Homo sapiens: one gene and its partners. The protein of the gene in region 2 purifies or fractionates together with the protein of the main gene of each other region. This does not show direct contact. Each region holds a gene or a part of one and is shown on either strand. Other genes may lie near its edges. The genes, in order: CORO2B, CNN3 and NEK10.

The links.
Region 1: the proteins of CNN3 (region 2) and CORO2B purify together in Homo sapiens (co-immunoprecipitation; one large-scale study listed by IntAct). This does not show direct contact.
Region 3: the proteins of CNN3 (region 2) and NEK10 purify together in Homo sapiens (co-immunoprecipitation; one large-scale study listed by IntAct). This does not show direct contact.

The regions. Positions count from the first base shown.
Region 1 is NC_000015.10:68,711,473-68,715,125, forward strand, and holds part of CORO2B (coronin-2B), read left to right. Parts: intron 1-69; coding exon 70-234; intron 235-2,452; coding exon 2,453-2,569; intron 2,570-3,086; coding exon 3,087-3,191; intron 3,192-3,653. UniProt on the Homo sapiens protein: May play a role in the reorganization of neuronal actin structure.
Region 2 is NC_000001.11:94,920,486-94,924,138, reverse strand, and holds part of CNN3 (calponin-3), read left to right. Parts: exon of another isoform or gene 1-1,271; intron 1,272-1,917; exon of another isoform or gene 1,918-3,653. UniProt on the Homo sapiens protein: Thin filament-associated protein that is implicated in the regulation and modulation of smooth muscle contraction. It is capable of binding to actin, calmodulin and tropomyosin. The interaction of calponin with actin inhibits the actomyosin Mg-ATPase activity.
Region 3 is NC_000003.12:27,292,808-27,296,460, forward strand, and holds part of NEK10 (serine/threonine-protein kinase Nek10), read right to left. Parts: intron 2,884-3,653; coding exon 2,806-2,883; intron 846-2,805; coding exon 781-845; intron 1-780. UniProt on the Homo sapiens protein: Plays a role in the cellular response to UV irradiation. Mediates G2/M cell cycle arrest, MEK autoactivation and ERK1/2-signaling pathway activation in response to UV irradiation.

The DNA of each region.
Region 1 (3,653 bases), on a different chromosome or scaffold from region 2:
GCACTGGGGACAAACACCCCAGGACCCTAGCAGCCACTGACCCTGCCTCCCATGCATCTGCCCTCGCAGGTCCTCATCTGGAACCTGGATGTGGGTGAGCCGGTGAAGATGATTGACTGCCACACGGATGTGATCCTCTGCATGTCCTTCAACACGGACGGCAGCCTGCTCACCACCACGTGCAAGGACAAGAAGCTGCGTGTGATTGAGCCCCGCTCTGGCCGTGTTCTGCAGGTGGAACCCTACATTTTTTGAGATTGAAGGGGAAGGTATTGAGGGCTGGGGCTCAGCTTTCAGCAGGCCTGGAAGAAAAAGGCTGTGCCAGCCCCCTTCTCCAGTGCATCTCACTGCACCTCTGTTGAACAACCTTTCTCTCTCCTGGGCCCTTCTCAGCTCATAGGAACCCTGCCTTGTTCTGGGTGGGGAGGGACCTCATACCCTTTCCTGTCCCCACTGCACCCCCTACCTCCAGACAGGATTCTTCTGGCTTGCTCTGGGGGCTGAACTGGTGACACCCTTCAGTGCATACATCCCCAGGTGTTACCCAGGTCCACCACAGGCACAGGAGGAGGAGACACTGGACTCACTGCCCAGCCACTTGATAGGATGAGCCTGAGGGAAATGGCTAGGGTGCCAAGGCTGATGGTGAACTTAGCTCCACTTTTGGTCTTTGAATCTCCTGGGTCTTGGGTTTGAGGAAGGGGTTAAGTGCCATTTGGAAGTAAGAAATTACCATTTTTTGAGCACCTGCTGTGTGCTGGTCATGGGGAGAGATGGAATGGAAAATATGGATGATATCTGAGGTTTGCCTTCTACACAAGAAGGGATTAATGCTTGATCTGGGTGTGTTTACCTTGGAATAGTCCAATATTACAAGACCAGAAAGTTTTCTAGTACTATAGGTTGAGCATCCCAAATCCAAAAATCCAAAATCCAAAAGACTCCAAATCCAAAACTTTTTGAGCACTGACATAACACCCAAAGGAAATGCTCATTGGAACATTTCAGATTTTGGATTTGGGGATGTGGGAAGCTCAACTAGTAGGTATAATGTGAATATTCTGACATCGGAAACAATCCAAAATCTGAAACACTTCTGGGCCCAAGCACTTCAGATAAGGGCTACTCAACCTGTACCACTACAAATAAGAATAATGAGAGTTGCTTAGCATGATTAGTGTTAACTGACATCTGCTAAGAGCTCACTGTGTGGCCTGCACTGTGCCCGGGGCTCTGCACATCATCTCATTTAATCCTCAGGACAACCCTCTCAGCTGGGTGCTGTTACTCCTCTCATGTGATACGTGAGAACACTTAACCTTAGCGAAGTTGGGAGACTCGAATCTCACAGTTCCAGGAGGAGCTAGGATTCAAACCCAGAGCCCATGCCAAGCAGAAAGAATGTTTATGAACAGAGAACCCCCACCTCCAATTCCCAAATGGGGCCATGAGCCCAGGGAAGGTGAAGGTCTTCTCTTGGGCTACACTTTTTTGGTGGAGCTAGAACTAGAGTTCAGAGTGTGTGACGCCAGCCTGAATATGTGCACTGCCCCATTGGCCTCTTTTCTGACTTGCTGCCAACTTACCTGATGCCGAGGACTGTTGTGTGTTAGGAGGAAATCAAGTGTCACGAGCCAGTGGGCAGGAAAGGAGGCCCAAGACAGCTCAGTTAAGGAGGCACTCCCTGATGAGGCAAGCTGTGAAGCAGTGATGGGCATGAGTCTCTTGTCCTCCTGAGCCTCAGTTTCCTCACCCTCAAAATGGGGATAATGATTTCTTCCGATAGATATTGTTATGGGGATGAAAAGCAATGCCCCTGGTGAGAGCTCCTGAAGTGGTGTAGCCCCCAACTGGACTTGGTGGACGTTGGCTCCCCTCTCGCTCCCTGTTCCCCACATTCTCTGGGAAATGGCAGAGAAGGCATCTGTGGAGCCATTGCTGCACAGTGCTTAGAACAGTGTCCTATGGCTGCTGTAACAAATGCCCACAAACTAGGTGGCTGAAAACAACAGAAATGTATTCTCTCACCATTCCAGAGGCCAGATGTCCCACATCAAGGTGTCAGCAGGACTGTACTCCCTACAGATGCTCTAGGAGAAAACCCATTCCTTGCCTCTTCTGGGGGTTGCCGGCTCCCGTGGCTGGTGGCCACATCACTCCAGTCTCTGCCTCCAGGGTCACACACCTTCTCCCCTGTGTGTCTCTGTAATCTTACCTCTCTCCCACAAGGACACTCATGATGGCATCCAGGATCCACCTGGATAATCCAGGGTAATCTCATCTCCAAATCCTTAGCTTAACCACATCTGCAAGGACCCTTTTCCAAATAAGGAAATAATTGCAGGGGCCAGGGCTGAGGACATGGGTGTATCTTTTCGGGACCACCATTCATGCCACTGCAGAACCCACATGTTGGGGACCCTGGCTCACCACCTCCCTCTGTTCCTACTAGGAGGCCAACTGCAAAAACCACAGAGTGAACCGGGTGGTGTTCCTGGGGAACATGAAGCGGCTCCTCACGACAGGGGTCTCCAGGTGGAACACAAGACAGATTGCCCTCTGGGACCAGGTCAGCCACGGGGAGGCCTGCTGGGTTTGGGCTAAAGGAAGCATCGTTGCCTCGGAGGTCACTTCCTCAGAAAGTCAGGAGCCTGGGCCCGCACACCAGCTTCTCATAGCATTCCCAGTGGAGAAATCAGACAGAGACCCCCAGAGGCCGAGCTTGGGTACAGAGGCTTCAAGGAACAATGTCGGCCACACCTGCAAGATGTTCACCCTCTTTTTCCAGAGTGGGGGCTGAGCTCCAGAGAGATTGAGAGACTTACCTGGGGACACATAGCAAGTAGCAGGTTTGGGGACAATGAGAACAAGTCCCTTGCCTCCTGTTTGTAAGACCCTTTCCACTGCCCCTGGCTGCTTTTCGTGACAAGAAAGTCAGTCTTGCCACCACCCATAGGACGGGCTTTTTAACATCTAGGGGAGGTCTTAACATAAAGTAGTTGCCATCCTAAGAGGCCTTCCTGGGATTTGGGGAGGGGTATGCCATCCTGCCTGCAGAGAGGCTGAGACCAGCTCTTCTCCCTCAGGAGGACCTCTCCATGCCCCTGATCGAAGAGGAAATTGATGGGCTCTCTGGCCTCCTGTTCCCCTTCTATGATGCTGACACCCACATGCTCTACCTGGCTGGAAAGGTAGTAGGAGGTGGGGGAGGGCCCGGGGCAGCCTGTGGGAGAGCCCTACCCTCAATGCACCCCTGCACCTGCCCCACCCCCTGGAGAGTAGCCAGCCTAACCTTCCAAGTTCCTGGGCCTCACCTTTCCCATCCACACCTGCCCTCAAGTCTGACACCCATTCTTACTCAAGTGTCTGCTACCAAGAATTCCTTCAAAGGTGAGCTGGAGCGGGCTTTTACATTGGAATAAAGATCAGAGCCTGCAGTGTAGTCAGTGATGAATGATGGAATTTGAGATACCCGCCAGGAGATCCTTGGTGAATACAGCCTTGTTTGTCAGAAAGGCTGTCTACACACACACACTCACATCAGCCCATCCACCTCCACCTCTCCACCCGCAGTGAGTCCCCTGTGGTGCACCCACTAGGAGCCTAGAAGCCAGGTTTCCTTGGTTTTTTTAACTGCCCATGAGGCACAGGGG
Region 2 (3,653 bases):
CACCTTTTGATTCCTTCCTGCTTTTTCTTTATTGCATAATTGATACATTGCTTGAATGCTAGATTCCCCCCATCTACCCCCACATCTCATTTAACAAAGAAGTATAGAAACATCCTGGGGAGACAGTGTGGAGTGGACCTGGGAGTCTAGCATATGTGAGTTCTAGTCCCCGTTCTGCCACTTCCTGCCTTCTGTGATGCTGGGCTAGCTACTTGACATCTCTCTCCTAGCTTCTGTTCTGTAGAATGGGGGAAAACAATAGTTGCCACCCCCAGACACCATGTTGTGGAGATGTGTCTGGCTTATACTCAACTCAGTGACTGTATTGTAGCTATTAGCTCTTAGTAACAGAAAATTAGTTTTTAGTATTATATTTCTAAGATTTGTATGTCCCTGCCTCTTTAAGTATTTGGTTTGTATTAATACCTTTTGGTCTTGTTATATAATATTCTAGCTGTAAAAGCATTTCATCAATGAATTGAGGAAGTCTCTGATTTTAAATACTTTAATCAGTAAAATTTCAGAGAAAAATCTTTAAGACATTTGATTGGTAAGATGATAATACATGGCAGAACACACAAGCTTACTTTTTTTAATAGGCAAGAAGATGTGTGAAAACAGCCTTAAAAAAAAAAAGCCTAAGAATTCCAGTCTTTCAGCCTGGAATATGAACAAAGTTTCTTTAATAACAAAGAAAAAAATGACACCAAATGATCAATAACTTAGAGTTTACAAAAACTATCAGAGAGTAAAAGGGCCAGGGAAAATGCAGACACTGGTAGGGATGGTTCGGTGGAGGATGGAAACACTCATAAAATAATGGGCCCTACAGGTATTCTACAGGTTGAACCAGGCCCTTGAATGCATCTTGGGAACCAAAATGAAAAGTGAAACAACTCTGTGCCTCGTAAACCATGAAAAAACATAACAGGTACTCAAGGGAAGCACAGTATTTCCTGGCAAAATGTTGGAGTTGGGGGTAGTTTCCCGTAAAGTTGGATGGGAAGAGAGGACGCAGTGAAGCATGTCTTCATCAGGTTTAGAGCAAATGCCGCAGGAACCTTTCTTACAGGTCTCAGGGAAAGTGGAAAAAATAAATTGACAAATGGGGAGCTGAAATAATCTTACCTCGGTATGTTTTTTTGGGAGGAAGCTAACTGGAATATTAAGAAGCATGGAATTGGAATGCACATTCTTCCAGTCTTCTGCCCCCTTGGAATGTCTGATTTGAGCAAAGCAGCTTCCCACGGGATCTTCTTGATTACAAAATGGTATTTCTCAACACCTAAAAACCTTCTTGAAAGGCTTATTACCAAAATCTTTGGTTGTTGAAGTTAAACAATCATACAGTAATAATTAGATAGGACCAGTGTCCGCGAAGTCCTCCTAGCTTGTTTGCCGGGTGCGCTTTAGACGCACAGCTGCTCTGAGGGTACTTCTGATCAGAGTAACCCAGGGTGACCCAGCTATAAATTACACTCGAGGGTGGTTTGCCTTGTCTTGCTGGTAGAGCACCAGAATCTTGGTAAAAATGTGTTGGTGGGCTTAGCTTTTTTCTTTTTAAACTTGGAAGTTCAGAAATTGGTTTTTAATTAAAATCTTTTTTTGTTTGCTTATTATCTGTCTCTTCCCACCAGAGATAAAGCTCTCTTATTCGCGGGTGTGTCTCAAGATCGATATTTTACAATATAGTTTAGCACATAGCATATGCTCAATAAATATTTGAATATTTGTTGATTTAATGAATTTATTCATCGGGAATAGATTTTGCTATCTCTAGACATAAGAAGTTAGAAATTAACTCTGTAGTCTAAATAAGATAATTCTGTAGTGCAAGTGTGATGATTTTGAAGGATGTGGTTAAAAAGAAAATATTCTAAAAAATATTTTATTTTTTGATCTCGCTATGTTGCCCAGGTTGGTCTTGAACTTCTGGCCTCAAGTGATCCTACTGCCTTGGCCTGTTAAAGCACTGGGATTACAGGTGTGAGCCACCATTCCTAGCCTTGTTTTTCTTAAGTAGTTAAATAGTTAATATTATGTTGAAATTTTTCATCTTTGCTGCTGATTTTGGGATTATTTCTTAAGATAGATATTTTGACTGGGCTCTTTCTTAGACTTCCAAGTTAGGAATGGTAGAGGTGTCCTCTGCAAGGATTTGTCCAGTGCCTGCATTTTCCTGAATACTGCTGGAGAAGGGGCCATTCAGCCAGGGACTTTGCTCCTGGTAGGAACCAGCTATTGCTGTTGGTCTGCTTTAGTTTTTGTTTTCCTGTCTTGACCAAAACAGATAAATAAGATACACTTTGCTGAAGTGACAAGAGATACCATGCTTCCTCTTTAAAATTCTCATCCTTATTTACTCTGGAGTTTTAACGAGGATTATCGTCAGGCTCACTGATTTTTTACAGTCTAACATTTGTGGAAATTGTTCTGTCTCTAGACAGTCCTTTAGATTTCAGAAACAATCTTGACAATGATGACATCGCTAATACCCACCATCAACAGAGGTATAGGCTTTTTTTTTCCCCAGTGCCTGTTTCCCTTCCAGGTTGGGACATGAGGGTTAGTGTTTCCTGCCTCCTTTCCCTCTTTAACAGTGTATCCTTAAAGTCATAATGAATCTGATCTGCGGCATAAAAAAAGTAAGCACAATTGGATCGTTTTGGTTTTTCACCCATCATTAGCATTGTATTCAGGAGAGTGAGGAAATGCATTTTCTTCTCTCTCTTTTTTATTTTTTTGAGATGGAGTCTCCCTCTGTTGCCCAGGCTGGAGTGAGGTCGTACGATCTCGGCTCACTGCAACCTCCACCTCCCAGGTTCAAGCAATTCTCCTGGCTTAGCCTCCCGAGTAGCTGGAATTACAGGCACCTGCCACCACATCTGACTAATTTTTGTATTCTTAGTAGAGTTGGAGTTTCACCATGTTGGCCAGGCTGGTCTCAAACGCCTGACCTCAAGTGATAACACCTGCCTTGGCCTCCCAAAGAGCTGGGATTACAGGTGTGAGCAACTGTGCCCAGCCCTGCATTTTCTTTCTCAGTGAAACTAGGTGGTGGTTGGAGAAAGCTTGTCCTTAGAATTTGTTGGCAAGTTCCATTTAAATCTAGGCATTACCCTCCTGTAGCATATACCATGTGCATTGGCTCTCCTTAACTCTGAACTTATTTTATAGCCCAAATGGGCTCTTAACTTATTTATGTGTACTTGTACCCTCAGATTTTTGTTAAGGATTCTTGGAACTCATAGGTAGATCCAGGTTGTTTGTGGGGACGAAGTTTATACAATTTGGGGGTCCTCATTATGAAAAATATATAAATATCTTTTAAGTTTTACAAAAACCTATGGCCATGTGAACCCTTTTGAACTTGAAGACTTCTCCATACCTGTCATACAAGGTTCTTGTCAGGGAAAGTAGAGCTTAGTGGTTAAGAACATGGACTGTGGGAACTGGGTTGGATTCCTGGTTCTGCATCTTACTGTGAACTTTGGCAAGTGACTTAACCTGCCTGTCTTGTATGTAAAATGAGGATATCATAACACTCATCTTTATAGGGTTGTTGGGAGAAATCAGATAGATAATCCATGTAAAGTGTTTAGAATAATGCCTGGAATCAAAAGCCCACATTATATAAATTTTAGCCATGGTTT
Region 3 (3,653 bases), on a different chromosome or scaffold from region 2:
TCCTCTAAATCCAAACAGTATAGAAATAAAGTAACAACATAAAATGCTCCATGCTTTCTGCACTTGATCTCAGCCAAAAGGCCGAAAAGTGACGCTCCATGCTTTCTGAACAAAAAATACTATATTAACTCAATACTTTATGTCTATTCTGCCTTATTAACAAAATTTTAATAAAAACTTGGGCCTATGATTTTGGCTAACCCACCTAACTAAATGGTGTGCAGAACACCACTGAGGGAACCAGTGTTTGCTTCCCGAAATGGTGACCTTTTGGTCAGGCTCACCAACACAGTATCTTGACCCCAGAACATCCAGCCTCCCCTTCAAATGAGCTCCTACACCATCAAAGACACACAAAAAAACAGTTTGTTTTCCCTTTGATTAAATTCCCTTTGATTAAAGTGAAATTACCCGATTGACTTTCAAATTTCTAGCTGGAAAAAAAGAAGCTCATATTTTAATGCCATCTTTTAAAAATGTTAATATCTTTAATTATCAAAAAGAAAGCTAAAATCACAGCAGTCACATGTAATTAAGGGGAGTTGTATTGATATAGCAATTTATGCTCTTTCATCATCATTCTGTTAATATTCAGTGTGGCTGGATACTGAATCACTACAGTAGCTCACTTCTATCTGTGAAATAAGAAATCTGAAGACACATGGTTTGCATACTGACGCATTATTTTCCTTCTGTTGCATCTAAGCCAAGTATGTGAAAACAGTTCAATCTAATGATCTCCTAAACCTAATGATCACTTATATTTCTCTAACCTCATACCTTTTAAAGAGTGGTCTGTTTCTTTCCATACTGAAGAGAAATCTCAAGGCTCTGAAAGCATAACACTAGAAAACAAAAGGATATGTGATTCTCAAATGGTAGCTCAACAAATTAAAACATTTTCAGGAAAGAATTAACAGGAAGTAAACATTAACGTGACTTTATTGTAAGTGGCTGGTCCAAGTTGGAGCCAAAGCTTCTAACTGAAAACAAAAAACACCAACACCTGGGGTCATTCCTGTATTTAAAAAGTGTTTATGTTGTAGAATGCAGGGAATATTGGCCTTGCTTCACTTGGTACTCGTCATTAATTTCTTTCTAGAAAGTACAAAATGAGTACAGAGACAAGAAATAAAATTCCGATGCTGAGAAAACCAAATGTCTAAAGATTTCCAGGAGCTCAAGGTTTATTTTGTTTCTAGCCTGCTATGTATACCTCAATATTTATATGGTTTCTGTGAGAAAATAAACACTAGAAATGATGACATATAAAAATAGCCGCAGGCACACTGGATTCAAACTTGACAAATTGGTCTCTTGAGTAAAGAGTCTTAAGCATTCCCCAAATAGAACAATCTACACTAACTCCCTAGAACGCTCAGAAAGAGGCCTGTGAGCCTTTACCTAGGAAAAATAAACATCTGACATTTTGCAGTACTGAGAAAAAAGAGTGTGCCCAGCCTGCAGCTGTGCCTGCACAATAGGCCACCATTGGAGTGATCAGGGTTTGGTGAATCAAATCTGGGATCATTTCCTAAAATCAGTGATCTGAACACAGAAGGGTCCCATACAAAATTGCCCAGAGAGGTGAGGCCGGTAACAAAATGACATGAAGGAGCCAGGTGAGAGCAGTGGAGACTGTGAGAAAGGGAGAGCATGCATATTCCTCAAAAGCCCTCCATCTGGAATTCTAAAAAACCCTCTACTGGCTTAACGAAATGTCTCTGCAGGATGGGTTTGTCTTTATCTGTTTAACAGCACAGTGTCATATATCTGTGATGCACTGAAGAAATCAAGTCCCATGCCTGCACCTTCCCGTTGGTAGCGCTCCAAAAACCCCTGCCTGCCAGCACAGAGACACCCCGAAAGAGTCTGCTGGGTTTGGCCATCATTTTGGATGATAACTCTTAAATCAGATTGGAGACAAAGGTTGTTTCTTTCTTCCTTTTCAAAATGACTTGGGGGAAAAAAAAAGATGAGCTACAACTATTGCAAAGACTAACTTTAAATCAGATTTTGACATTAGGGCCACTGCCCCCCGCCCCCACTCTGCCAATACCCACTCCTCAAAAACGAACATAGAACCCTGCGTAACTGTTCCCCTTTCTTACATGTGAGCCCTCAACTCCTGGAGCACTGCCTCCCCAAACCACACACCCCAGTTCCACTGAGCAGCTCACCCTTTACTCAGCTCTCCCAACACCCACTCCTCAAAAATGAATGTAGAACCTGGCTAACTGTTCCCCTTTCTTACATGTGAGGCCTCATCTGCTGGAGCACTGGCCCCCACAACCACACACCCCAACCCCACTGAGCAGCTCACACTTCCCTCAGCACACTCTAAGCTCACAGCTTTCACACTTGGTGCATGCTGTTCCCTCTGCATGGAATGCCCTTCCACCCTGCAGCAGATGCCATTGGTGCCCCACCCAATATCCCCTTATCCACTTGGCAAGTCCCTTCTCATCCATCAAGATCCATGATGGCAAATAATTTTCCCCCTGTTGTTATATTCTGATACATAAGGAATGCATATTTTTTTAAAAAAATAGAACTTATTGATAAGCAAAGAAACACCTAAATAAATCACCTAATTCTCCCACACAGAGAAACCACTGTTAAGCCTTCTGTATTGTTTTAATATTATTTGATTCCATGCCAGTCTTCCTTGCCAGATATTTTTCCCTCATAGTCAGTACAGGGACCAGTACTAACCTAAACATTCTAAAAATCATAGATCATTTTACCATAGTTACCCAAGATTTCAATAACTTGATACTGAAGGACAAGAGACATGTTTATTACCTGTAATAGATTACTTTTTGCTGCATTCTTTTGCTTATTTGGTAAAATTAATTTTGCTATTGTATATACACCATTTTCCTGAAAGAATAAAGGGGTCATACTATGAGTGACAACACTGTAGTGATACACAAGCAAAAAGAGGCAAATAAACAATCTCAAACATTAATATCAAAGAAGAAATATTAGTATAACTATGGACCTTGAAGTAAACATTACAGGACAATATTTAAAATGTCAACATAACACTTTTAAACACCAAAGAGTACAACTACAATTTTAAAATTTCAACTGTCTGTGGAGAATCAAGATTATAATAAAGTACATAAACGTAAAGTGATTCAAATACCTTAAAAACAATGAGAGATTAAAAAGGGACAGAGTAAAGGTGTCCCAATATCTTAGATTTATATCTTTGATATTTATTTATATCCTTAATTACCACAACCATAAAGGGAGAAATTATATTCCAGTTATTAATTTATGTCTTTATTATAATCTTGACATCTTTCTAGATTTTTTAATTGAAATATACACATGAAGGAATGAACAAATAATAATACCTTACAGCCACTTTTCTATTATCTAGTAAATATATAATGTACTGATCTTTACTGTGTGCAGGCATTCATATTATAACTGCAAAGAGCTTTATTTGCCTTATTGCATCTAATCTCTGTAACAACTCTGTGAAATTAGTCTATAATTTCCTTGTTTTATACATGAGAAAACCAATACTTAGAGTGGATACATTATTTTTTTAGAAGCCAAGCCAAGAAGTAATAATTCCAGGAATTGAACCTCAATCTGGCCAACTTCAGATGCCCTGTTCTATCAACTACCCCCTGATC